Linked DNA regions of Homo sapiens: all the other regions are linked to region 2. Evidence: fine-mapped expression QTL. A gene starts in region 2. Each other region holds a variant in brackets. All regions are shown on one strand. Distances are between the middles of the regions. Region 1 holds the start of LOC124901162 (a long non-coding RNA gene). Region 2 holds the start of LPCAT1 (lysophosphatidylcholine acyltransferase 1). Region 3 holds the start of LOC124901161 (a long non-coding RNA gene).

Region 1 (5,000 bases), 37 kb after region 2:
GATTTTTTCCTTTTCACATTCTTAGTTTCCTTTCAGTGACCTTCATATCCGCACCATCCATTTACAAACCTTGTCAAGGAAAGTTTGAGCCTCAAATGCCCAAAAGACGGCAGAACGCTGTCACCTTCTTGCTGGCAAAATGCGCCAGTCCCAGTGTGGCTGTGCACACGGCGTGGTGACACCCTTCCCTCCTCAGGGCTCCCGGGGAGGAGCTGCATCTCCTTGCTGTCCTCACTGCCCAGTTCTCAGCGTGAAAGGCACACCGGGCAACCCACATGAAGACGCACGGCCCAAGACTTCACTCAGAGTCCTCCCCCTGCACCCCCCACATTTACCCCCGGACCCATCTGAGTGTGAAACGCCCCCACGTCACTGTTCTGTTCTTTGCCGTTATAGACAACTTCTGAAATCTCTACTCTGTTCACAAAACAAACCAGCTGACAGGATTGCGAAGGTGGCAGGGTGGCATCTCCAGACCCCGTGTGCCCCGGGACGACCATGGGACGCTTTGGCCAAAACAGTGGGCACCGAAAGACCACGCAATCAGGGCCATTTCTTTGACGCGTGCGCCATCCTGCGAGACGACTCCGCCATTCTTCCCTTCCGATATCGTCCTTTTTAGCAGAGTTGGGAATAACCAATGAGCAAGGATGAAATAGTACTGGAATCGTGAAAAAGCAAAATGATTCAAGACATAGGAAAGACCACAGAGACCCAACAGACAACCACAGGATAGAAGGAATTTTCTTTTTTTGGCTTCAATTTTCTCGTTCTTGGAGGAGAGAACCTCCAAGAAAGAATAAAAGTCATGAAATGCTACTCCTTACAAGTAATAAAAACGCTAAGAAAAGAAACTGGAAACTGAACTGGGGTGGGGAGGTGGGGCTGACCTGCAGCAGCCTAGGAGCCCGTGGTGGGGTCAGAGACACCTTCAGTTGGCCTGGGGGGCGCCGAGTGTGGATCCTGCTCACCGTCCTCAAAAAGGAAGCTCCACTCAGGGATAGTTTCATTTTAAAGTCTTCAGAGTTTTCTCTTCTAAGAAGTATGTTTCCACGTTCAATCCTCTTGCATAAAGACAGGTGCCGTGGCCACGTTGCCTTGGCTGAGCACCAGCCTTCATGGCGGGGTGTCCCTTGTACCCCAACCCCGCAACTTCCAGGAGGCTGTGGGGTGCCATGGTTAAACTGGGGCTGTGCTACAAAGCACCACAAAGCTGGTGGCTTAGAACAACAGGAGCATATTCTCCCGCCGTCTAAAAGCAGAAGTGCCAGAACAAAGTGCTGGCCGCATTGGGCTCTTCTGAAAGCTCCCTCGGCCCTCCCGGCTCGTGGTGGGGGCTGTGGCCACATCCTCCTATGGCCTCCTTCATCATTGGCCTTCTCTCCCCCTCTTCGTCTCCTCTTCCCATAGGGACCCTCATCTGGGATTTTAGCTTGAGCATCTGCTTTGTCTCCTCTTCCCATAGGGACCCTCATCCGGGACCTTGAGCATCTGCTACCACCTGTTTCGAAATGAGGTCCCATTCCCGGTACCAGGAGTGAGGACTTCAGCTTGTCTTTTAGGGGATGCAGTTCAACCCACAGGGGGAAGGCGGGGTCCAATCTAGGGACCTGGCACCTTCAACCCTGTCCTCTGTGAAGACTGGGTCTAAAGACTTTCTGCTTCCTGGCGGTTGTCTTTCATTGACCTCCGTTCTGTGCTCCGTGTCCTCAGTGGGTGCCATGGACTTGCTGTTTGTTACTTGTGGCACTGAGGCTACAGGGCTTCCTGCTGTCACAGACATGGGAAGCCCGGGTGCTGTTCCCGTTCCCTCAGTCAGGGACTCACAGCCCACCCATGGCACAGCCCCTGGGGCATCTGGAGTCTCCCGCCCCACTGGGCGCCATGCAGCAGCCCCCTCGTTCCTCAGCCCTGCCTGGCGGGAGCCGTGCATTCCACGTGATCCGTCTCCCCTCCTCTCTTCCAGCTCTGATCCAGTATATACGGCCTGTGTTCGTGTCCCGGTCAGACCAGGATTCTCGCAGGAAAACAGTAGAAGAAATCAAGAGACGGGCGCAGTCCAACGGAAAGTGGCCACAGGTAATGCACGTAGCCCTGATTGTGTTTCAGTGGTTTTATTCCGAAAGATGCGAACTTCGCGAGTGGGGAGAAAGAAACTGGGGCCCTTCCTCCGGGGCTGGATTCTGATTCTCTTCTCCTAGTGAGTGCGTGAACTCAGGAGGGTGCTGTCAGGTGCATTTGGTTTCGGTGCCCGAAATTTAAAGTTAAAGTAAAGAAAAACAATTCTCAAATGCATCTCAGCTTCCTGAATCATCTTTTCTGAACTAAGTTCTGACTCAGATAGAGCATTGCTCACCCGCCCTCCTGGTGCAGTGTGATTTTGGAGTTGATGTGTCAGCCTGCTGTGTGTTGGGTGGTTCTAAAAGTCCTGGAGTAAACTTCCTGGTCTGTATGCTGGTTCCCAGGCATTCAGAAGCCCTGAACCCAGCTGTAGGGGCAGCCTGGCTGACATTAGCTTGGACGCTGTTTTTCTTCTTTCCAGCTGAGCCATCATTAGAAGCTGGAAATTTTACAGAACTGTCTGGGATCTGATTGCTCACGAAGCTTTGCAGGGTCTGGCTGGGGGCAGCCCCTTAGAGGGCTGTGACTTCCAGGGTGCCCCAGCTCTGCCCCCACAAGCACAGGCAGTCTCCTCCCCCACCCATTTGGCCTGCCTGGCCCTGGGCTTGCCAGGGTGAGCCCACGCCGGCCCCCCTGAGGTCTGTCTTCCTCACGGGGCCCAGAACTGAAAGCAGCCTGCGGGGCTGGGAGTTTGAGGGCAGTTTTTGCTACTGCAGGCCAGTGTGAGTC[A/G]GAGGAATTGAAACCCCGGTGTGGAGGGTGCTGCCTGACTGGGGCTCGGCTCTCCTGCTCATCCAGCCCGTTGCTGGGGTCCCAGCCCTCCTTCGGCTCCATCAGCCAGGCACTGCCATTTGTGGGTCTTTGCTCTCCTCCCCACCTTCTTCCTGATGAGAATGAGTGCTGCCCCCAGGAGGTGCTTATGTTGTGCCAACCGTGGGTTATATTTAGTTGCACCTGGTTCTCACAGTGTCTGAGAGGTGGGCACCGCGACTACCCTGCTTTCCAGGAGCTGTAGTTGAAGAAGACAGATGCTGTTTATGTGTTGATACTGCTGCCACACTTTAATAAAACCAGCAGAGCGGAAATCAGTGTGTGCTTCCATAATGCATTTTAATAATTTACGTACTGAATATGATCCCAGTGTCCAAATTATGTCAGCAGAAAAGAAAATATATTGTGAAGATTGGCTTCTGTAAGTTCTGAATTATAATTATGTACAGTTTAATGCTGATCCTTTTCTTTCTCCCACTTCCAGATAATGATTTTTCCAGAAGGAACTTGTACAAACAGGACCTGCCTAATTACCTTCAAACCTGGTATGTAGTTTTCTTAAATGTTTATTTTTCTCCTAGAGAAAAGGAAAATATTAAAGAGATGTTTTTTAATAATGTGCTGTGCACATAAGAACAGTTTCTGTTTTTATCCTGTGTGCTGGGGTTCTTAGAGGTATTCCTAAGAAAAGTCACAAAATAAATTTGAGAATGTGAGTCAAGGATTATCATGTTTGCAGGAAGATGGAGAAGTTACGGTTTCAGGGCGTTTCCAGTGAGGTGGAGATAGATGTTTGCCTCTGTTTTGAGGTCCAGGCTGGAGGGTCCTGGGTGCAGAAGGGGTCTCACTGCCTTTGAATGGCTCAGGGTACCCTTCTTGGCCTGCAGCTCACGCCCCACACCCGCCTGGGAATCCCAGGTGCAAATCCCTGCGAGCCATCCTCAGATGCCCAGGTCCCCAGGTCCCCAGTTAGACAGTGTTCTTTCTCCCTGGGGAGGGGGGACTCAAATGCGTGTGAACTTGGGTCTCTCCCGCGGCGGTTACCTGGGTCTAGTATTGTGTCTGCACCCCTGACGTGGGAAGTGTGGCAGTGAGCAGGCAGCAGAGTCCACTGTTCTTTTTGCGCTGAGTCTGTTTGGAATTCTGCACACCCTTGGGCGTGTCAGAGGGTCCACCTGGATCCTGTCGTCTCCCTTGGGCTACTTTAGAAAGTAGTGGCTTTCATCAACTGTGTCCATACTGGGGCATGCAGACCTGTTCTCTGTGGTTGGATCAGAGTCACGTGGAAAAGCCAGTTCCTCGCTCACACTGGCACCGGCTGCCGTGCCTCTGGGGCCGCACAACCTGAGTGTCTGGACATTTATGGGAGCTGGGTCGAGAAAGTGTGCAGTCACTCACCTACGTGTGCCGCCGGGGTTTCCGAGCCTGTGGCCATCCTCCTCCAGCTCAGATGCGCGTGCTTTCACCCTCCACCCTCCTTGGTGCAGCAGGCAGATGGCAGGTTTTGCTTCCAGAGGCTTCAAGGTGCAGCTCACTGGAAGGTACTGGGTCTTCCCGTTCCATTGTCTTCACCACGCGTGGTTCTGAGTCATTCTGATCAGAACCAGAGATGCAGAGGGTGGAGGCGGCACGCGGTGACCACGAATCCGTGTGCCCCCACCACACTGGGTCCGTGCCTGGGCGTGGCCTGTGGGCAACCTTGGTGAAGGCCAAAAGTGGGCCGTGTTTCCAAGGCCCCAGGCAGAAGACAGCTGGCAAGTACGTCAGGTCTTGTTCCTTGACAAGGTGTGGGGCTGGGGTCACTGCTGGGCCCTGTCTTCAAGGGCAGGTGTTCCTCGGGAGTGGAGCCTCGTGCCTGCAGGGAGGCCCCTGGGGAGGGCCATCGCCTTGCCCTTTGGAGCTGGCGGCCCTTGTGTAGACGTGAGGAGGGCGTGTGAGCACCTCTCAACGCATATCACGAAACTGAGGGGACTCATGGCGGTGCCCAGTAGGAGCTCACTGTGTGCAGTCCAGGAAGGGCGCTCGCTGTGCCCCAGGTGGGTTCCACGGGGTCTGGGGAGATGACACGGTGGCTTGATCCTTTCCCCGTCTCCATTTCCAGTGGGTCCAGC
Region 2 (9,505 bases):
TGAAGCACTCAAATTCATAATCTTTAAATCTTTCTGAAAAAGAAAATTCTCATTCCAGATAGCTTCCCTGATGAACTCTAACAAACATTTAAGGAAGATATAATACCAACCCTACTCACTCTTTACTTAGAAATAGAGAATTTGGAATACTTCCTAACTCATGTTTTAAAGACAGTATTATCCTCATTAGAAATCAGGCAAAGACATTATAAGAAAGGGAAACTACGGCCAATATTTCTTATGAACATAGACACAAACATCTTTAACATAAATTTATCAATTTAAATTCGGTAATAAATCAATCGTGTAGTATGGTTAAGTGAGGCCTATCCAGAAAAACAAGGTTGGTTTAAAATCAGAATATGAACCAATTCAATTCACCATATTCACAGGATTAAGAAGAAAATTTTAAGATAATCTCAATAGACGCGAGCAAGCTTTTTGGCCAAAATGATAAAAACTACTCAGTAAACTAGCAATAGAAGGGAACACCCTCATCCTTTTTCAGGGCATCTGTGAAAACCCACAGCTCATGTCAAGACTGGGCACTGGGTACTAACAATCCCCAAGATTGTTAACAAGACAAGATGCCCAGTCTCAGCACTCTGTCCAACATTCTGTAGAGGATGTCACAGTCAGTGGAACAAGAGGAAATGCAAACAACGAAAGGCATACGTGTTGCTGGTGAAGGAAGAAATAAAGCTCCTTATTTACAGGTATTATGATTGTGAAATGGGGAAAATCCTAAAGAATCTACAAAAAAAGTCACTAGAACTAATAAATGAATTTAGCAAGGTTAATGCCTACAAAGTAAATACATAAAATCAGTTGTAGTTCTATATACGAGCAACACACTTCTGGAAATTGAAATTAAGAAGCAGTATCATTTATAACAGCATCAAAACATGAAATAGGAACAGAATTCGAAAACCTATGTAAGACCTATGCAGTGAAAATTATAAAACATTGCTGAGGGAAATTAAAGAAAACCTAAATAAATGATCTGTATACCATGCTCATGGATGGATAACTCAATATTGCTAAGATGGCAATTTTCCCAAATTGATCAATAGATTCAACACAATCTCATTAAAAATCCCACCAACCTTTTGTTTGTTTGTTCCTGGATACTTCAGTTTCTTGACAAAATGATTCTAAAATTTTGGCTGGGCATGGTGGCTCACACCTGTCATCCCAGCACTTTGGGAGGCCAAGGCGGGCAGATTACCTGAGGTCAGGAGTTCGAGACCAGCCTGGCCAACATGGTGAAACCCCGTCTCTACTAAAAAATATAAAAATTAGCTGGGCGTGCTGGTGCATGCCTGTAGTCCCAGCTACTCCGAAGGCTGAGACAGGAGAATCGCTTGAACTCAGGAGGCGGAGTCTGCAGTGAGCCGAGATCGGGCCACTGCACTCCAGTGCAGTGCAGTCTAATTTCAAGACTAATATAAAGCTTTAGTAATCAGTATAGTGTGATGTTGGCAGTTGCAGATGTACAGATCCATGGAACAAAATACAGAGTCCAGGAATAGACTCAACTATACATATATGGCCACTTAATTTTTTTACAAAGTTGTCAAGGTAGTTCAATGGAGAAAGAATATTCTCTTCAACAAATGGTGCCGAAACAGTTGAATATTCAGACGAAAACATTTGAAACTAAAAAACCTCTGCCTCCACTTTACTTTATGCCGTGTACAAATGTCAACTTGAAATGGAATACAGACCTAAATGGTAAAGCCAAAACTGTAAAACTTCTGAAGTAAGAAAATCTGAATGACCTTGATGCAGGTAAATATTTATAAAAGAGGATACCAAAACCATGATCCCTAAAAGAAAACGCTGATAAATTGGACTTCATCAAAATTTAAAATATCTGCTCTTTGAAAGACACTATCACTGCTTAACAAACCATCTCAGTCTGTAGTGACTGAAAACCACCACAATTTTCTGTTTGTCATGATTGTGGGTTGAATAGGAAGTCCATCCATTGTACATGATGGAGTCCCTCACTCTGGGGCTGTGCACTCCTCATCTGGAACATCCACAGGTCCTCTTGTACCCTGGGGTCTGTCTTCATACAACCTCTACACAAGCAGTAGTGGTTCTCCATATAATCCATACTGTCAAGAGTAATTTTTTTTTTTGAAAGAGAGTCTCGCTCTGTTCTTGCCCAGGCTGGAGTACAGTGGCGTGATCTTGGCTCACTGCAACCTCTGTCTCCCAGGTTCAAGCAATCCTCCTGCCTCAGCCTCCCGGGTAGCTGGGACTACAGGCGTGTGCCACCACACCTGGCTAATTGTCATATTTTTAGTAGAGATGGGGTTTTGCCATGTTGGCCAGGCTGGTCTCGAACTCCTGACCTCAGATGATCCGCCCACCTCGGCGTCCCAAAGTGCTGAGATTACAGGCATGAGCCACCGCGCCCGGCCCAAGAGTAATTTTTGAAACGATTATTACATCACTGCAGAAGTATGAAGCATCAAGGAATTAACAAAAATACAGAATCTTTATGTAGAAAAATTTAAAATGCTATCAAAGGGCATGAAAGAACATCTAAATAAATGGTAGAATAACCATGTTGGTGAAAAATCGTTCTCAAAATTATAAAGTGTCCATGCCACATCATCCATTTAAAAAATTTTTTTTTTGTATTTTCTAGTGCTTTGAAGCCTTGGAGCCTTGGAGCCTTGCTGGCCCTTCGAGGGCCCCTCCCAGGACCAGCCAGCTCTTACTGAAGTAACATTCTTAGGGAACAGGGAGAATGAACAGTAAGAATGAAGTAACATTCTTACTGAAGTACCCTGTACAATTAATGTGATTCAAAAGGAAGCTTCCAGCGGGAATTTTTAGCAATGGGGACAACTGCTTCCAAAATTTGGATGGAAAAATAAAATTCCCTGAATTCCTACTACAATTCTTGGGAAGAAGCGCCAACAGGAAGGAACCCCCTCTACAGTTACTAAGGCAGACGGTTGAAAGGTGTGAGACAGGAGTAAAGGAGTACGCGGACCGGCGGGTGAGACGGGAGTAAAGGAGTACACGGACCAATGGGTGAGATGGGGCAGCCAGAAGGAGCTTCAGGAACCCTTCTTTCTGTTCATGCTGGAAGTGGACCCACAAGTGGGAGTCTGTGATTGATACGTGGTGTTGAGAATATCAGGTCTCCATGCAGAGAAAAAAATCTTCAAATAGAATAAAATGCAACCATGAAAGGCAGAACTGAAAAAAGATGTTAGTAGAAAATGAAGGAGAATATCTTTTTCTATCCTATAGATAACTCTAAAATTCAAAAATTAAACAAACAAAACAAAAATACTCAGCCTTACCAGAACAAGCAGGTACCTTGTGTTCTCAATGCACTTGGAGTATAGGAAACACTTCTCTGTGAGCTTACACTCTTAAAACAGAGACAAAACCAGAGCAAGAAGCCTCAGGGGTGTGGTTACCAGCCCCAGGGAGCTGTGGGGGGCTTCCAGGAGGTTCCTGAGAACCACAGTGGGGGCTCCCTTTGTAGCTAAAGGGCCCTTAGGGTGGTTTTCCCAAAACTAAGTCCTAATGAGAAACTCATGTTTCCCCTGCTAGACAGAGAAAACTGCTTATACCTCCCCACCCAAGACCAACTTCTCTTAGTCAAGCTTCCAGACCCTCCAGGTCTTAAGAACGTTCCATTACATAGCAGAACCAAAGCCTAAGTGTGAAGGCCCAGTGTGGGTGGAGGAATTTCCTTGCTGCTCCTCCACGCTTGCGCTGATTTCCCCATAAGCAGCCCCTCTCCCCCACCCCTCGCAGTCCCCAGGAGAAAACTGACTCCCACACACAAGAGTGCCCCAGCTCCCCACCCCCTGGGCACGTGCCCTGTGGACCATCCAACCCCTTCCAGCTGCAGCAGAGAAGGAGTCCCCGCTCCGGGCCCCAGGCCTTTCCTTCCTCTGAGCGCAGAATCCTTCCAGACTGAGATGGGCCCATGACACCCCCTCTCACAGGGGTTTTCAACGTCTCCTGTGAGGCTGGCCTGTTGCCTTCCACCCAGGAACATGTCCTGGGCCCCTTCCTTGAGCTGCTGCCCTGGATCCCAGCCTCCCGCCAAGCATCCATTTTCCTCCTCCTGCCCATCACGCTTCCTCCTTTCTCAGGTAGCTGGGAAAGAACCTCTGTAACTCCTGCCCACTCCACAGCACCCTGCAGGGTGGTGGTCTCCACCCTTGCTACTACCACTGGCTGGCCTTCCCAGTTCTCTCCTGGCCAGTCCTCCTGGATGGGGCAGTTCCGTGGACTCAGCCCCTCTGGGGACCTCCGCTCCTTGGCCGCTCTCTGGGGCCTTCTTGGGTTCTGCTTGGTGAGGACGAGTGTGCCCCAGTCCTGCCCCCTGCTCTGCACAGCCCTTGGCCCTGTCACACCCACCCTCCCAGCTGTGCCCCCTTGTGTACTGACCCCGGAGCTGGGCCTCTGCGCCTCCTCCACATGGTGCCTGTGACCCAAGGATCCACTGAGCTTCTACACCAAGGCCACGCTGCCCACAGTGGCTCCACCTAAGACCCCTCTGGGAGAGGGACTCCTCTTTCCACCGACCTTGGCTCAAGGACAACCTGCTGACCCTGCTTAGATTGCCGGGCAGTATGAGGTTCTTCCCCCAGCCTCCCCACCTCCTTCCCTGGGTTCCAACTCACTTTGCACTCTGCAGGTTAAAGCAGAAGGAATTTATTCTCTCCCAGTCTGGAGGCCAGAAGCCTGCGATCATGGCACCCTAGGCCTAGGCTCCCTCTGAGAGCACTAGAGAGGACCTGCTCCAGGCCTCTCCAGCTCCTGGGAACTGCTTGCCTGTAGCAGCAGAACCCTGGCCTTCCCATGGAGCTCTCTCTGTGTCTGTCTCTGAGACCGAATCTCCCTCTCTATAGGGACACAAGCCATTTCAGACTAGGGCCCACCCTAATGACTTCCTCTTAACCTGATCATCTGCAAAGACCCTGTTTCCAAATAAGGTCGCGGCCACAGGTGCTGTGGGTTAGGACTTTTGCATCTTCTGGGGACACAGCCATGACTCTCTGGCAGCTCTCCCCATTGAATCTGGCTCTGCACCATCTCCAGCAGGTTTCCCCTCCGCCACACACCGCTTCCTGGCCTGTGCTTCTGGGAGGACCCCACTTTCATGGCTCTCCAAGTCCAGTCCTGAGGCTGCTCTCATCCCAGGACTGGGACACCCTAGGGCCCCTCCTCTCCAGAGCACTCAGGCAGCAGGTGGGGCCGCCTGGATCGCTGGGGTGCAGGTGCTGCCCTGTGGCTGGCAGGCTTTGTGTCCTGGGCTTTCTTGATGATCAGTTCGGTGAGGAGCCTTGGGTGGCCTCGGGTGCTGGGCTCTGGTTTTGGGGATCAGAGCAAGTGGCCACTAAAAGCCCAGGAGGTGGGTGCAACGCTGGTGGCTGGGCCACAGAGCCACCAATGCCCACCAGCACACAGGGCTCACCCCATCCCCGTGGGTGTGGCACTTGGGACAGGTGCTGCTGCTAGGCATGGGCTGGGACTCTTATGGGGCAGGAATATGGGCTGGGACTCTTATGGGGCAGGAATAAGGCCATGCAGCGGGTCTGGCCTGCCGGGGCCTTCTCTGTGCATGATATGTGGATGGCACAGACCCCTGGCCCTCACCCCGGTCTCAGACACAGAAGGGTCTCTGCCAGCCCGCTGCACTATGAGGTCCACAAGGGCGCAGGCAGGGTCATTGGAGGGGTCGGGGCACTCCCTGGCGTCTGCTGAGGATGGGGCCCAGCTGGGGCCAACACAGCAGTGACATCCCCAGGAGCCAGGACCCTGGGGGGTTGGCCAGGTGGCCCAAACCGGCTCTGTCTGGGTGAGGTCCGTTGGCCATGAAGGAACCAACAGGGCCAGCCGGGGTGAGGAAGCCGTGAGCACTGTGACCGAAGGCCTGCGTGAGTTCTGAAATCCAAGCGTGTTCACCCGGAGGCAGGAGCCCATCCTACTCTCGCTCCGGCTAATTATGGGCCCCACCCTGGGGCTCCTCACACGGCTCCTGAGCACCACAAGGGCAATGCCCGAGCCAAAGCAGCTACGGGTGAGAAAGCGCTGGGATCTCATCGCAGCCCCTGCACAACCAGCACGGACAGTCAGGGCCCCTATGTGCGCCTCCTGCCTGGGCCATCCCTGCGGGGCCTGAGGCCTGAGAGGTCCTGAGATCGGAGGGGTCCTGAGGTCTGAGGGGGTCCTGAGGCTTGAGGGGTCCTGAGATCTGAGGGGATCCCGAGGTCTGGGGGGTCCTAAGGTCGAGTGGACCTCAGGCGGGAGTCGCCTGGGCTGAGGCGCGGCTGGAAGAAGCTCCCTCAGCCCGGGGCAGCTTCCAGGGTCGCCGGTGCGAGCTAGGAGCCCAACGAATAAGAAGAATGGCGTGGGGCCTTCGCCGGAACAGCCCGGGGCTCGGCACCCAGGGCCTGGCCCGCCTTGCGCGTAAGCTGGACGCGTGCCCGCCCCTTCCTCCCTCCCCGCGAGCAGGCGGGCCGAGCGGCGGAAGGGGACGACGTGGCAGCCTCGCGGGCCCGGGGGACCTCCCTTTCTCCTGGCGCAGACCCTGCCGGGGATCCCTGTGCTCCAGTGGCTGCAGGAGGCGCCCCCGGTCCCCAGCGGCCCCGGCCCCCCACAGACCCCAGAGAAACCACCAGGTAGCGGAACTCCGGCTGGTGCCGCCCCTGCCGGCCGGCGGGAGGCGAGGCTTCCAGGGACGCCCCGCCCCGGCCGGCGCTCCCGCTCCGCCCACGTCACCTCCCGCGCCTGCGCGCCCGGCCCGCTCCAGCCGCCGCGCATCCTCGGCCCGCGCCCCGAGACCCGCGCCCAGCTAGCCCCGGCCCCGCTCGGCGCCCCAGGCAGCTCGGCTGCGCTCGCCGCGGGACGGCGCGGCCATGAGGCTGCGGGGATGCGGACCCCGGGCCGCCCCTGCCTCCAGCGCAGGGGCCAGCGACGCTCGGCTGCTGGCGCCCCCGGGGCGGAACCCCTTCGTGCACGAGCTGCGCCTCAGCGCCCTGCAGAAGGCCCAGGTGGGTGCCCAGGGCGCGCGGCCCCGGGAGCCGGCGCGGACGCCAGGGATGCTGGGGCCAGGGAGGCGCGGCCGAGGAGGGGCCGGGGAGGGGGCCTGGGGCGCGGCGCGGCCCTGCGAGCCGCGGCGCCTTCCCTCCCCGCGGCCGCCCCTCAGTTCGCGTCCCCGCCGCCCGCACCCGATGCCTCGGTCTCGGCGCCGGCTTCCCGCCGCCCGCACGCGCATCCTGGTCCCTCAGCGCCTTCCTCGGGGTCCCCGCTTCCCATCCCCGCCCCGCGTTCTGCTCCTCCCCCCAGACCCCTGCACCCTGAACCGGGCCCACAACCCTTTCTCTGCCTCCCAGAGCCCCGACCTCGGCTCCCGCGGGAGGCTGGACCCGCATCGCCGGTCCCCGCGCTCGTCCCTGGTCCGGGCCCCGCCCGCCTTGGCAGGCCCTGCGCGCAGCCCGGGGACTCCGGAGCGGCTTTGCCTGGACGCGGCCCGCGGGCGGGAGGGCACCGCGGCTCTGGGTGAGCCTCGTGTGCGGGGCCTGGTGGTGCCCGGGACAGGGCGCGCGGGCGGTGCGGGTCCCCTGTAGGGTCCCCTGTAGGCGCACGGGTCTCCCTGCTCTGCGGCCGCACGTTGCCTTCTGGGGTGCATGCTTCGCTCCTGTTGTAAGGGATGCTTTCTCGGGGCTGGTCTGACCCGAATCAACTTTATGCAACCTGGGCTGCCACGTGGGAGGGAACGGTTTGCTGAGATCCTGCGATGGGACAGTGGTGAGGGGAGACCCGGGGGCGTCGTGGGGAGGGGGCCGCTCGCTGCAGGAAGCTGCACCGGGGATGTGCTGGCTCAGCCTGGCTTTTCCGGCTACCTGGCTGCCAGCTGGGCTTACAGTTACCTGAGATCCACTCTCAAGAGGACCTTACTTTTGACTCTAGAATAATTCCTAGAAGCAAGCACTGTTTCGGGGCCTATGGGGCTGTCCGGTTTGTAGGGAGCACGCTTCCAATTGTGAGAATAGATTTCCGGGAAGATGGAGATTTGTTAATGCATAAAGTACTTTATCTGAAAGAACCCTGAAGTGAAAAGTTCTTGAGGCCAGTTTGAGCTTGTCATTTTCCCAGGACGCCTGCTTTTGCTCAAAGCCCCTTGATGCGGCTGGTCCTCAGGGTATGGAAGGGGACGGGGAGCAGGAGAGCCCGATGGTGCCGCCCCTCCTGGTGACACACAGGGTGAGGTCGTCCCCAGCCTGGCTCCCAGGCCCTGGCCCCCGTCTCCCTGTGTGTCGGGAGCTGGACTCTGGGGCTGGGGCGGTGCCGGCCCCTCTGCCGCCGCTCTGCCTGGCCCTCTGTCTGCCACACGCTGTCAGCTGCCGTGTGCTGTGCCCCTCAAAGGAGGACTTGGGACACGGTCGCTCATTCTGTGCCCCTCAACCATTCCTCCTCTTCAATCCTCACCCCCACCCAGCCACCAGGCTCTCTCCCTGGTCACTCTCCCTGAGTCACTCCCAGCAGGCTTTCTTCCTCCTGCACTCTGCTGCTCGGAAGCCCTCAGCGGGGACGCCCCCGGATGAAATTCGAACCCCTGCTGTGGTTTCCAGGGCTTCCCCAGCCCTGCTCCTGCCCCAGCTATGGCTGCCTCAGGCATGCTCTCTCTTCCTGCCTTTCCTACTCCCTCCTGGCTCCCTGGGGGGAAACATCAAGCCCCTCCCTGGAGGTCCCCGGAGGCCACTTCGTCATCCCTGTCATAGTTGCAGCCCCCGGTTGAGGTGTGTTCTGTCCAAAAGTGTGCACCCACTGCCCTGGCGAGAAGCAGGGCAGAGACTCTCATGGGTAGGTACAGATGTCAGGGCACTGCCAGAGTGCCCAGAGGGGCCTGCTTTCCTCCCCGAGACCTCAGGGTGCAAGCTGCTCCCAGTGGCTCTTGGGCAGGGGGTCATCGAGAGGCTCCTGGTCCCGAGATTGAAGGCTTTGGGCAGCTGTTCTCCCTTGGGCCGAAGCCAGGCAGAGATCCTGGCTTGAGGTGTTGGGGCCTCTCAGAGAGGGGGCTTGCTTTGTTGCCACTTCAGAGGTTCCATCTGAGGAATTAGGTGTGTTTGTACATCCAGTCGTTTCTGCTGGATGTCTGCAATGTGTGGCTCAAGGGTTTAGTTTGTAAACGTTCTCAAAGTTCTCTGCAGAAACATTTTGCTTTTCACCAAGCATTGCTTTGCAAAGCTTTTACTTTGATGTGATATATTCTTGTAAAGTTTCCACAGAGTGAAATAGCCTGTCTTTCAAGCCAAGAAAGCCTTCTTCCCCAAAGAAAGAAATGGGTCCAGTAGTGGCTGACACACTCAAGAACCCGCAGAAACCCAGCTAAGTTCCCAGTTGAGATAAACCAGTGAGTACCTGCATTTACCTGTGAGCATTTGCCGCCTGGGAGGGGCTGCTGTGTGTCTTCGGATTAGCGCCATGCGGGGACACCTCCTCCTCCAGCCAG
Region 3 (7,858 bases), 19 kb before region 2:
ATGTGGGTTCCTGCACAAGGAGTCCCATTTTCAGATATTTCTCCTTTCTGCCTGCTCAAGGCAACCGTGGCTGCGGAAGACTCCAGGGCAGGATGGTCAGCAGCCTCCCTGCACGCTCAGCTGCTCCTGCTTTAGAAGAACCAGCCCCTCATCAGGATCCCGCCCGTTGGGAAGCCTGCACGGATTCTTCTGTATGCCCATGACACGGGCAGGGTCCGTGCTATAGAGCCCCTCCGCAGTTCTCCAGGGAGACACCTGTAGCCTGCAGTGAGGAGGGCTCTTGAGTGTCATCGCCTGAGGGCACTTTCTGAGAAACAGCGACAATGTAGAAAAACAGGCAACATTGTGCAACGTTTATCAGCCCCTCCGATCACACCTTTATCAACCCCTCCGATCGCGCTGTTTATCTGCCCCTCCGATTGCACCGTTTGGCCATGTGCATCGCTTTCCCACCGTTCTTCTTAAAAAAGGAAAAGAGAACATTTCCGTAGATCTTCTTGCCTGTTACAGATTGATTTGTTGTTGGCTGGTTTTATACATACACGCCTGGGTCCCTGGGGTCTCCGTTAGAGGATCCTGTGCCCCCAACCACCCCAGCTTATTTCCTAGGGTTACAGGTCAGTAAGGTAGTTGGGCCGTTTACCTACTCACTTTTTTCATGAATCTCTTTTGACAGCTACCAAAGAAGAGACAACATCCAGCAGCAGCCACTCCCGCAGGACTCCAGGGAACAAGGATGGAATGAGAATTGAGAAGCAGAGCTGAGCTGTGACTCAAGCACCGGGCTGGCTGCCACACAGCATCCCTGTGACACTCAGATGCCAGCTAACGTGTTCTAATAAAAGTAAGCATCGCTGGCCGGGTGCGGTGGCTCATGCCTGTAATCCCAGCACTTTGGGAGGCTGAGGTGGGTGGGTCACCTGAGGTCAGGAGTTCGAGACCAGCCTGACCAACATGGAGAAACCCCATCTCTACTAAAAATACAAAATTAGATGAGTGTTGTGGCATGCGCCTGTAATCCCAGCTACTAGGGAGGCTGAGGCAGGAGAATCGCTTGAACCCGGGAGGTGGAGGTTGCGGTGAGCTGAGATCGCCCCATTGCACTCCAGCCTGGGCAACAAGAGCGAAAGTCCATCTCAAAAAAAAAAAAAAAAAAGTAAGCATCACCTTGAAAGACATGATACCAACTGCTGAAACATTCTCTGAGTTCATGGTTAATAAGAAAAAGACAGCAGAACACCAGCGCACTTGGTTTCTGGAGAGCACCACTGTCAGGAGGCCGTGTTGACAAGGATGCTGGAGGAGTTCAGCCGCAAGCACCAAGCAGACTCCTGGATGAGAAGAAGCCACAGCTTCAAACCTGATGGGTGGTGAAGAGTACATTCCCTTTGCTGGCACAGTGAGGGAGAAAGACCAGAATTTTGTGTTTAGGTTAGAGGAGACCCACACTTAGGGAGCTAACGATGGCAGTGACTGTTGACTAAGAGCGTTCTACCACGATGCTCTTCCAATAGCCCTGAAGACAGGTCTTCTTATTCACCCCTTTCTATAGAGGAGACGCCAAGGCTTAGAAATGGAAATCCCTTTCCAAAGTTATCACAGTGGTAAAAATAGTACGGGGGTTTGAACCCAGGCCTTTCTAGCTGCAGAGTCCTGGTGCCTGCCCCACACCCTACGGTGTCACTGTCTCCCCAGAGACCCTGAAGGGCAAGGGTAGCCGCAGAGCAGAGTGGACAGCCTCCGGTTCTAGGGCCCGATGTGTGCACATTGATACATTAAAGTCCTGTCAGTGCGCAGATGTGCGAGGGATGTATGTCCGGAGAAACACATGTGCGCTCTGAGCAGTAACAAACCCAGACTGTCAAAATGAAGAACTGAGGACACATCGTTGCTGGGTCCATCTAATTCTGAATCAACTGTGAATATAGAAGAAATAATTTGCTCAAAGAGAAGGTGTTGACTTGTCCAAGACGCAACATGCTGTCTCTTCCTCTAGAAATCAGAAATATTCAAACCCAGAGTTCTACTGAAATACCCTAAATTGGCAGTGCTTTTTTGTGGTAATTTAATCAGTAGCTGAAGCTGAAATTCCCAGCTTTTCACAAAACGCAGTTTGCAATCTAAGATCCAACACTGTAAAAAGTGTGGCTGGTTCTTCACCCCCATAAAATAATCAATGTTTTCCAGCTAACCAGTCACATCGGTCAAACCCTACCTTGATCCGGTGATGGGCCCCTGCCCACCCCAAAATTTCCCGCGTGTTCATGAAAGACGACTAACTCCAGAACGGAACATGACGCACGTGCCGAGACATCAGCATTGAGTAAGCACCCGCTGTGGGCCAGGCCCGGTCTCAGGACAGCTGCGCGCCCTCCAGACTCCACGGTCCTACAGGTAAGTTCCACCTCGCCCCTGCTTTGCAGAGGATGGAAGGTGAGGCAGAAAAGCCGAGTCACTTCCCAAGATCACAGGGCAGAGCCCAGAGCCCTGTCACTCCCTGTGTCACTGCCTTCCTGGGTCACGACGAGTAACTTCCTGAACACAAGGGCCTGACTTGCTGCATTTGTCCCAGCTTAGGGATCATGTTGGCTGCAAATGGGTGTCTAAGACAACCCTTTAAATGTGAACATGGAGAAAAGGAGAATTGCTAAACACATTGCTGGAAAACATCGCCCATATAAACGTCTGTCTAAAAGAGCAACTTAGCCAGAGCAAAATCGTCTGCTAAATCAAAGGCGACTGGCACAACTAAATGGTGTAGAAGCAAATATTTCATTTTCAGCTTAAAGAATATCACTGCAAAAAATATGTTCATTCTGGGTTATCAATGCGTTTTCTAAATGAAGATGACTCTGAAAACATACTGATAAAGTTAAATACATGCCGTTTCAATCCCAACTGACACAAACACTCCAAGGAGTCAAGGACTGCAAACCAATTATGTTTGCAAAATCCTGGCTCAAATGTCCTCCCTCAAACACAAATGTTAATGTCTTACTCAGTATACTAAGAAATATGTCCTCTCTGTTGAGTCTTTAAAATCAAGTGGCTTATGAAATAAACCTCCCATCCAATAAGAGCTCTTGGCCTCATCAACTCATATTGAAAATATGCACAAGGGTTCTGTTCTGACAATCATCTCACTGTCGAAGGGTCAAATCAGGTGATTCTCAGCGTCTGTTACCAGAGACCAGGTGCTTCCACTCAAGATGACTTCC[C/T]GGTTTGCTCAAGCAAGAACCACTTAATGAGCAAATGAGCAAACCCTCTGGGCTGCTCCAGCTTAGGTGAGAGTGCACATGTGGGGTGACATAGCTGTGTGCAGAGGAACAGGTGTGCGTGCAGGTGTGAGTGCAGGTGCAGGTGTGTGTATAGATGCAGGTGTGTGTAGGTATGTGTGCAGGTGTGTGCAGAGGTACAGGTGTGCGTGCAGGTGTGAGTGCAGGTGTGGGTGTGTGTACACAGGGGAAAGTGTATAGATGCAGGTGTGTGTGTAGGTATGTGTGCAGGTGTGTGCAGAGGTACAGATGTGCATGCAGGTGGTGTGCAGAGGTACAGGTGTGCATGCAGGTGTGAGTGCAGGTGCAGGTGTGTGTACACACGGGAAAGTGTGTATAGATGCAGGTGTGTGTAGGTATGTGTGCAGGTGTGTGCACAGGTACAGGTGTGTGTGCAGGTGTGAGTGCACAGGGGCAAGTATGTATATAGCTCTAGGTGTGTGTGCACAGGGACGTGTATGTATAGGTGCAGGTGTGTGCAGGTGTGTGCAGAAGTTTGTGTGCAGATGTGTGTGCAAGTGCAGTTGTGTGCTCACTGGGGCAAATTTGTATATAGGTGCAGGTGCATGTAGGTGCATGTGCAGGTGTGTGTGCCAATGCAGGTGTGTGTTCACAGGGCCAAGCATGTGTAGAGGTTCACATGTGTGTGCAGGTGTGTTTGGAGGTGTGTGTGCAGATGCAGGTATGTGCACACAGGGACAAGTGTGTGTATAGGTGCCCGTGTGTGCAGGTGTGTGTGCAGGTGCAGGTGTGTGTTCACAGGGCCAAGTGTGTGTAGAGGTGCAGGTGTGTTTGGAGGTGTGTGTGCAGGTGCAGGTATGTGCACACAGGGACAAGTGTGTGTATAGGTGCAGGTGTGTGCGCAGGTGCAGGTGTGTGTTCACAGGCCAAGTGTGTAGAGGTGCAGGTGTGTTTGGAGGTGTGTGTGCAGGTGTAGGTATGTGCACACAGGGACAAGTGTGTGTATAGGTGCCCGTGTGTGCAGGTGTGTGTGCAGGTGCAGGCCGCACGCAGGAACACTCATGGTTCCACTGGCAACTCATCCACAGTGGCTGCGCCCGCTTACTTCCAGGCATGAGTGGGGAATGCATCACCATCCAACTGAGTGAGAGGCCCTTCTGAGGAGCCAATGCCTGCTCACAGAGAAGGGGGGAGATAGAAGGGGACAGGGAAGGAGGGAAGGAGGGAGAGGGCACCTTCTCACGCATTCAAGCCTCTTCCACGTGGTCCGACTTGGTACACATCCGGCCTGGCCCTGGCCCTGGGGTCTTACAAGACAGGCCTCGGCCAGAGCTGATGATGGGTTTCCCTCCTCCCTCCCTGCTTTTCTCCTGGCCTCTTCCCCCATCCTTCTCAAATGTCCCCTCCTCGAAGATGTCCTGGGACTCCCAGGCAGGAAGGAGCTGCTTCTCCACAAGAGAAGAGGGGAGATAGAAGGGGACAGGCTTCTCCCTGAAGCCTCTGGGCCCACCTATAGCAATGTGAGTCCCAGGCTGCCGCCAGGGCCAGAGCCCTCTGCACCCTGGTTCCTGCCCTGGCATCTATTTAGGACAGTAAAAGGGCTACTTAGATACTAATGAGAGTGAGGATTTATTAAATGAAATCTTTCTACAATAATTTTTTTAATTCTCCAAATGAGTCTCTTTTCTTTCTTTTCTCAGACAATGAATATTATGCAACCAAAATGTCCTGGGAATTCAGAGCCAAAGGCAGCATTCTTAGGAAATGCCTCCCACTCTCCTGCCATGGCATAGAGCTCTGCTGGGCTCTGGACCTGCAGAGAAGGTGAATAAGGTTCTGGGGGTGTCGGATGCCAAGGGGTGACCTGAGGAGGAGATGGGCTTTGGAGTGTGAGGCAGCACCCACGGTCAGCAGACAGCTAGGCACGGGGGCTCAGTGAGGAGGAAGGGCTGAGGCGAGGGTGGGGAGATGGGGCTGGGAGGGCTGGAGTCTTTGGGCACCCCCGAGAGAGCTACAGCTCAGCAGCGTGCAGGAAGGGAGGGCAAAGGGAAGGGAGGGCAAAGGGCCAGGTCAAAATGTCCAGTAGAAAGTGGGATGAGGAACAAAGTTGAGGTTGAGAGGGAGCAGCAAATAAAAGTACTCAGAGGGATTCGAAAGGGTTTTCTAAATCTACTTCAATATGCAAAGATAGATGTCATGGGCCTTGGTTTTGCTTTTCCAGTCCAAGTGTCTCCAGGAGCCTGCAGGTCCATTAGAATCAGCTGTACCTCCAAGTAGCAGAAATGTCCAAAACAATAATCACCTAAATGAGATAGAACTTCATTCCCCCTCCCATTCACTCCCCCCTCCCATTCACTCCCCCCTCCCATTCATTCCCCCTCCCATTCATTCCCGCCTCCCATTCATTCCCCCATCCCATTCATTTCCCCCCATTCATTCCCTGCTCCCATTCATTCCCCCCTCCCATTCATTCTCCCCTCCCATTCATTCCCCTTCCCATTCATTCCCCCTCCCATTCATTCCCCCTCCCATTCATTCCCCCTCCCATTCATTTCCCCCCCCATTCATTCCCCCCCATTCATTCCCCCCATTCATTCCCCCTCCCATTCATTTCCCCCTCCAATTCATTCCCCCCCATTCATTCCCCCCTCCCATTCACTCCCCACTCCTATTCATTCCCCCACCATTCATTCCTCCCTCCCATTCATAAGGCCAGAGGTAGCCAGTCCAGAACTGAGAGGGCCCTTCCAAAGGTCCAGGACCCAGACTCCTTCTCCCCAGTTGCTGCTGGCCTAATTTCCCTTCCTGAAGTTGTTTTATAGGCCAAGATGGATGCTGGAGCTCTAGCCAACACAGCTACCTTCCAGCCAACAGGAAGTTACTCAAGGGCACTTCCCAGAAGCTCCACAATCTTGGGATCATATCCAATGTGCTGCCAGGAATTAGTCACACGACCACACCTAGGCTGGGAATACAGTCTTCACCCTGGGTAGCCACACATCCAGCTAAAACATGCAGGTTGTATCATTAGGAAGGAGGTGAGGCTGGATGCCAGGAGAGGCCGTCAGACTCTGTGGGGCCTGGCCACTGACTCCTCCCCACAGCAAAGTTCCTCCTTTCGAAACTTGCCCTCCTCTCAACCAAAGGAGGTCTCTGTCTTTGCAACTCTGAGAAAAAAAAAAAATATATATATATATATATTTGAGACAGTCTTGCTCTGCTGCCCAGGCTGGAGTGCAATGGTGAGCTCTCGGCTCACTGCAACCTCTGCCTCCCAGGTTCAAGCGATTCTCCTGCCTCATTCTCCTTGAGTAGCTGGGATTACAGGTGTGTGCCACAATGCCTGGCTGATTTTTCCATTTTTAGTAGAGACGGGGGTTTCACCATGTTGGTCAGGCTGGTCTCGAACTCCTGACCTCGTGATCTGCCCGCCTCGGCCTCCCAAAGTTCTGGGATTACAGGCGTGAGCCACTGCGCCCAGCTGAGAAAAATTTTTTTATGCTGAATTCCTTACAAATGACATAAGCGATCATACAATTAGCCATGCTTATGTTTTAGAAAATATAAAATTATACATGATTTTAAAATAGGAGATACACCTTCCTCTTTCAATCAACAGATGCTGGGGCTTGTGGGAGGCCAGGAAAGGAAGAGGCCCTCGTCACAATGCTCCTGAGACGGTGAGGCAGGGGTTTCCCTTACACTCCCTGTTCCCAAGTATGTGAAGATAATTCCACGCAGCATTTTTCAAAGCCAACTGGAACGAGTTACTGTAAGCAGTCTTTCCATAAAAGATCACTCTTTGAGAATACTTGTTTTCATATTTGTGCTATTTTTGACATTTTAGGAAGCAAAATTACATGCAAACATTTGTTCTGCAAACCCAAAGTGTGAAGAAAGATGCATTCAAATACTAAAAAAAGCTGCGTGCCTCTAGATTTCAAAAATCTTTTTAGTTTTCACAAAGACCCACTGACGAGATCATTATTTCAGCTCATGCTTCCCACAGAGTATCATGTATTTAAAGTCAAAGAAAATGGGACAGACACAGCCGCTGAGGGAGATGCTGTGTTCATTACACAAGTTTTGTTTACATCACTTGGGACCCTGTGAGATGCATCTCCATGGAAGCGGTTTCAGCCTGCCAGCTCTGCTGCCAGAATTACTACCGTGGGCTTTGAAGGTTTATCACAATATAGTAAATGAAGTCAGAATTTCTAATAGGATATAAAAACAATGTTAAGTATCTAAATCCTTATTTGATGTCAAATGTACCGTAGTTGAGAAAAATGGTTTCTTCTGGGAACCAAGTGTTATGAACCAGAGCCTCCTTCTAGAAAGTCACCTGCAGAAATGGACGGTCACAGGGCACACTCCACCTGGGACGCTGGATGAGTGCCCAGAAGAAAGACCCCAAAGACTGGGAATGAGGTCACCACCTTCCTTCACTGGTCCTGGCTATGACCCGGGTCAGTCTCTTGTGCCTCAGTTTCCCTGTCTATAAAATGGTCTAACTCACTCACCGAGATGCCTTGGAAACTACTCTATACCAAGCAATGAAACCTTCTCTAAGATGCAGGCAGGATGCGTGGACTCACAAGAGCTGTGCACACAGCAGGGCC

Evidence for each region. PIP is the estimated chance that this variant, and not a neighbour inherited with it, causes the effect.
Region 1: its variant is the best candidate, but not a certain one, in a credible set for the expression of LPCAT1 in lymphoblastoid cells (GENCORD, PIP 0.89).
Region 3: its variant is the best candidate, but not a certain one, in a credible set for the expression of LPCAT1 in lung (TOPMed, PIP 0.86).

What each region holds. Positions count from the first base shown.
Region 1 is chr5:1,486,825-1,491,824 of GRCh38, reverse strand. LPCAT1 (lysophosphatidylcholine acyltransferase 1) reads left to right here. Exons shown (of 14, transcript NM_024830.5): 4 at 1,967-2,079; 5 at 3,374-3,434. It overlaps LOC124901162 (a long non-coding RNA gene), which reads right to left and starts at 2,294. Exons shown (of 2, transcript XR_007059103.1): 1 at 1-2,294. The variant A/G (reference allele first, on the strand shown) is at 2,851.
Region 2 is chr5:1,521,248-1,530,752 of GRCh38, reverse strand. LPCAT1 (lysophosphatidylcholine acyltransferase 1) reads left to right here and starts at 6,793. Exons shown (of 14, transcript NM_024830.5): 1 at 6,793-7,043. The coding sequence starts at 6,909. RefSeq lists a cis regulatory region at 5,401-5,636, silencers at 6,406-6,805, 6,826-7,135, 7,406-7,605 and an enhancer at 8,766-9,270.
Region 3 is chr5:1,541,295-1,549,152 of GRCh38, reverse strand. It overlaps LOC124901161 (a long non-coding RNA gene), which reads left to right and starts at 754. Exons shown (of 4, transcript XR_007059099.1): 1 at 754-844; 2 at 2,188-2,394; 3 at 4,937-5,060; 4 at 6,856-7,047. It overlaps LOC107986397 (a long non-coding RNA gene), which reads right to left and starts at 743. Exons shown (of 2, transcript XR_007059102.1): 1 at 652-743. The variant C/T (reference allele first, on the strand shown) is at 3,219.